Linked DNA regions of Homo sapiens: region 2 is linked to region 1. Evidence: fine-mapped expression QTL. Tissue or cell type: whole blood. Region 1 holds a variant in brackets; the other region holds the start of a gene. All regions are shown on one strand. Distances are between the middles of the regions.

Region 1 (2,760 bases):
AACTTAAAATCATGGCAGAAGGTGAAGGGGAAGCAGGCACATCTTATGTGGCTAGAGCAGGAGGAAGAGAGAAGGGGGAGGTACTAAACACTTCTAAACAACCAGATCTCATGATAACTCACTACCACAAGAACAGCTCCAGGGGGAAATCCACCACCGTGATCCAATCACCTCCCACCAGACCCCACCTCCGACACTGGGGATTATTACAATTTGACATGAGATTTGGGCAGGGACACAGACCCAAACCATATCAGTGGCCTAACATTTAGAGCCATCTTAGATAATGTTCTGTGTGCACTTGAGAAGAATGTATATTTTGTTGCTGTTGGATGAAATGTTTTGTATATGTGCATTAGTTCCATTTAGCCTAACTTGTAATTCAAAGCCAATGTTATCTTACTGATTTTCTGTCTAGATGATCTGTCCATTGTTCAAAATGGAGTGTTGAAGTTTCCTACTATTATTATATTGCAGTCTATCTTTCCCTTCAGATTATTTATTTATTTATTTGAGATAGCGTCTTGTTTTGTCACCCAGGCTGGAGTGCAATGGTGTGATCTTGGCTCACTGCAGCCTCGACCTTCTGGGCTCAAATGATCTTCCCACCTCCTGAGTAGCTGGGCCTACAGATGTGCACTGCCATGCCTGGCTAATTTTGTTTATGTTTTGTAGAGATGAGGTCTCACTATGTTGTCCAGGCTAGTTTCAAACTCCTGGGCTCAAGGAATCCTCCTGCCTCAGCCTCCCAAAGTGTTGGAATTATAGACGTGAGCCACCACACCCAGCCTGCATTCAGATCATTTAATAGTTGCTTTTTATATTTAGATGTTCTAATGTTGGGAGCATATGTATTTACACTTGTTTTGTCCTCTTCATGAATTGAACCCCCTATTATTGTATAATGACCTTCTTTGTCTTTTTTTTTTTTTTTTTTTTTTTACAGTTTTTGACTTAGTCTATTAGGTCTGCTATCAGTATAGCTACTACTGCTCTCTTTTGGCTTCCATTTGCATGGAATATCTTTTTTCATCCCTTTGCTTTCAGTCTTTGTGTGTTTTTACTAATAATGTGAGCCTCTTGTAGGCTACATTTTTTTTTAAATCCACTCAGTTACTTTCTTTTGATTGGATAATTTAATTCATTTTTATTTAAGGTAATTATTTAATAGGTGTGGACTTCCTACTGCTATGTTGTAACTTGTTTTCTTTTGTCATTTTTCTTTTTTCATGCCTTGCTATTTTTTT[T/C]TGTGGTTTGGTGGTTTCCTGTAGTGATATGCTTCAAATTATTTCTTTTTATGTTTTGTGCAACTACTATAGGTTTTTGTTTTTGCTTTGTAGTTACCATGAGGCTTACATGAAACATCTTATACTTATAATAGGCTATTTTAAACAGATAACAACTTAACTCTATTCACATACAAAAATTCTACACTTTTACCCCAACCACCTCTTATAATATTGATATAAAATTTTACGTCTTTCTGTAATTTGTATCCCTTAACGATTTATTGCAGCTATAGTTGTTTTTAATACTTTTATCTTTTAACCCTCATAGTAGAGATAAAATTGCTTTATACACCACCATTAGAGTAGTAGATTATCCTGAATATGCCCATTGAGTTTTATATTTTCATATGCTTTGTTATTAATTAAATACCTTTTATTTCAGCTTAAAGAACTCTTTTTTAGCAATTCCTGCATGATTACTAGGCAGGACTAGTAATGATGAACACCCTTAAATTTTGTTTGTCTGGTGAAGTTTTTATTCTTCCTTATTTCAGAGGGACTTCTTCTGGATATATTCTTGTTTGGCACTGTTTTCCTTCAGCACTTTGAGTATATTATCCCACTCTGTCCTTATCTGCAGGGTTTTTGCTGAGACATCCACTGCTAGTCACATTGAGATTCCTTAAGATGTGATATTTCCTTATCTCTTTCTGCTTTCAGAGTTCTTTCTGTCTTTAATTTTGACAGTTTGATTATGATATGTCTTGTTGAACACCTCTTTGAGTTGAATTTTGTTGGAGACCTCTGAGCTCCCTGTACCTGGGTATTGACATCTTTCCCTAGATTTGGGAAGTTTTCAACCATTTTTTAAAAAGTGCTTTCTGGCACTTTCTCTCTTTCTCCACTTTCTGCCACTTCTATTTTTACTTATTTATTTATTTGAGGCAAGATCTCTCTCTGTTATCCAGGCTGGAGTGCAGTGACATGATCGTAGCTCACCATAACCTCGAACACCTTGGCTCAAGCTCAGCTTCTGGAATAGCTGGGACTACAGATGTGTGCCACCATGCCTGGCTAATTTTATTTTTGTAGAGATGGAGATCTTGCTGTGTTGCCCAGGCTGGTTTTGAACTCCTTGCCTCAAGCGATCCTCCCAGTGCCACTTTTATTATGTAAATTTAGTTATCTTGATGATATCCTATAATTCCCATAGGCTTTCTGTCTTCATTTTATTCTCTTTTCTTTCTTCCCTGAGTAATTTCAAATGTACCATCTTCAACCTCACTGATTCCTTCTTCTGCTTGATTGAGTCTGCCATTGAAGAGTTTTATTGAATTTTTCAGCTCATTTATTATATTCTTTTTCTCTAAAATTTCTATTTTTATTGTTTTTATTTCTTTGCCAAACTTTTTGTTTTGTTTGTGCATTGTATTTTAAATTTTATTTAATTTTCTATTCATGTTTTCTTGTAGTTCCCTGAGCTTCTTGAAGAGGATTTTTTTCTGAAGTTTTTATCAGTCATCTAGGGTCT
Region 2 (2,500 bases), 37 kb before region 1:
GGGAGTCTTCTCTCTGCCTACCCAGTTCCTGTTTTCTTTAGAGGGCCTTTGGCCTGCCCTTAATATTGATATTCCATTAGGGACGCCCCTTCAAAGAGCCTTTCCCTAGACAATCTCACCCATACTTGCAACTTACTGACTTATAGTTCTTAACTCTCTCGAGTTCCAGACTTGAATTTTCAATCAACTCTTTAGTTTTAATCTGAAGCATCACCCCCTCTGCACACCCGCTCCTTCCTCTACTCTGTAGTATGAGAGTCTTAAACGTGAACATTATAAAAGTTTCCAATCATTTAGAATTTCAGGACACAACTGGAAGGGGAGGAGGGGCGAAGGGCACCACGGAGTTCCTACGTCTTAATTCTGTGTCCTTCTGCAGGTTCCCTTTGCGAAGACCTTAATCTTCAGTCTCGAGCAGGAGGCATTACAATGTTCTCCTGGGTGATGACTGCCATGAAATGGAATGACCGGGGCAGAGGCATGGACACTCGGAGCCACAGGAACCCCCTTGTTCTGCCAAAAGTACTCAATTTCCAAACCCTGTATTGACTTCTTTGAAAATCTGGTCATTCTATGCAAAGCCATGCAGATCATGATACAATCGATACAAATCAAATGCACATCAGGCAGAGCACCGAGGTCTGCAGAAGGTCTCGTCGATTTTTAAGGAGACAGAGTATGGTCTTTTTATAGTTTCCCTCATAAGGGAGCCAGAGGAAAGGATGAAGAATCTTCAAGAGAACCCAAGAGCGGGCAGGACTGCAAAGACCTCCCCTTTAGAACCCTCGTGGGTTGAACAAAGGGAGGCTGGGGCAGTCTTTTCCCACGAGAGACAAGGCCAAGAGGTCCGCCCGCGGGCCCTTGCGCGGAGTCAGGCTCGGAGCGGCTCGGGCGGGCGTCCCACCCTTGGCAGGAAGCGCGGACACGGCTGCTTTCCGGGGCTCCGAGGGGAGGGGGCTGCAGGGCCGCACGCCTGGGGGCCACGCTCCCCTTCCCTGGGCTCCCCTAAGGAGCCCTAAGACCGTTCCCTACTTACCTGCGTCCCCTGTCAGCGGCCATCAGCTCCTTGTGCTGGAAGGTGGACCAAGACCCCGCGCTCGGCGCCGCCATTTCCCGCTTTTCCCGGGCTCTCCGCTGCGCACCGCCCACAGCCCAAACAAACCGGGGGCCGTCGCTTCCCCCACATCCCTCCCCTCAGACGCGGACGCACACTGCGCCTGCGCCTGCGCCCTGCCGCGCCCACACACCAGGCCACCCAGTCCCCGGCCCGGTGCGTGCGCAGGCGCAGAGCTCTAGCGGCGGCCGCGCGGTCCAATGGGGTGAAGTGGGGTGCTCGGCGGACAGACAAAAGGAGGGGAAGGAGCGGGGCGGGGCAAAGGGCGGGGAAAGAGCGAGGGCGGGCGGGTGTGCTCCGTTCGGCCTGGGAATCCGATTGGTTATCGATTCCCGCGGAAATCACCCCGGTGCCTCTCGCGCCCCCTGGCCGGCCTATGGCGATAACTTCACGGAGACGGGCGTGGCTGGAGTTTTGCTTTATTGAAGTTGAACGGTTGGGGCCAGGCTGCGAAGGAGACTGAGAGCGCGACAAGGCCCTGGACAGATGCCCGCGCGGGGAAGGAAGGCTGGCTTAGGAGGGGGCGTCAGCTATGGTTTAGCAGCTTCCAGCGACCGAAACCTACATCACAGCCGCAGCACACAATTCCAGGAAACCTGGTGCTCAATATTGGGATCTCAGGAATCAGGACCGGCGGCTGGGGTGAAAGCCTAGCGGTCAGAGCTTAGGAGTGAGGCAGAAGCTGTTAGAGACTCTTCGCAAGTGACCCCGGGGCTACATATGGATGATTCAAGAGGGAGTCTCCTCGCCAGAAAGTTCACATGTTTCACTCCTTCTGGCCTTCATACCAACCCATTGTTAAAACTGGAAGTCCCTCCACCTGGGGTCACTGACTCCACTGTTTTCAGATAGGATGGGGACCCTGCACTGGAGACTGCTCTCTAGCCCCTGGGCAGGAGAGGCACAGACACTGCTACGCACGCGGAGCAGGGATCACCAGCGCTTTGACTGACTTTGCTCGTCCAGGAGGCTGGGGACATGCGTGCCCATGCTCAGCCCACCCCCTCTGTAGACACAATTGGTCGCCCATTCTGTTTATAGGAAGTCTTCCATCCTGCACCAGCAGCTGTCCCTAGACAGGGATTGGGAGACATGCAAGTTGCTTGGCTTCCTATTACCTTGTGTTGAAAACACAATAGGCTTTGGGATCAGGAGTTCATTCCAGTTATTTTAATGTTATTTACTAGCAGTGTGCCCTCGTGCACATTATCAAACTCCTCTGACTCTTGGAATCCTCATTTTTCAATAATAACTCACAAAGCTGTCAAGCCTAAGGGTTCTAACAGCTCGAACAGCACCTGGAACAGAAGCAATAGCCGCCACTCAGAGGTTACTTCTTCCTTCTCCGCCTTCTCTGGATCACCTCCCTACCTCATCCTCAATCTA

The links. PIP is the estimated chance that this variant, and not a neighbour inherited with it, causes the effect.
Region 2: it holds the start of CASP2, and the variant in region 1 is fine-mapped to the expression of CASP2 in whole blood (TOPMed, PIP above 0.99).

The regions. Positions count from the first base shown.
Region 1 is chr7:143,249,554-143,252,313 of GRCh38, reverse strand. All of the region lies in intron 2 of LOC105375546 (a long non-coding RNA gene), which reads right to left. Among named protein-coding and RNA genes, the nearest start is that of GSTK1, 13 kb to the left of the region's middle. The variant T/C (reference allele first, on the strand shown) is at 1,248.
Region 2 is chr7:143,287,066-143,289,565 of GRCh38, reverse strand. CASP2 (caspase 2) reads right to left here and starts at 1,215. Exons shown (of 11, transcript NM_032982.4): 1 at 1,037-1,215. The coding sequence starts at 1,110. It overlaps TMEM139 (transmembrane protein 139), which reads right to left. Exons shown (of 3, transcript NM_001282876.2): 3 at 1,518-2,500. RefSeq lists a silencer at 839-1,588.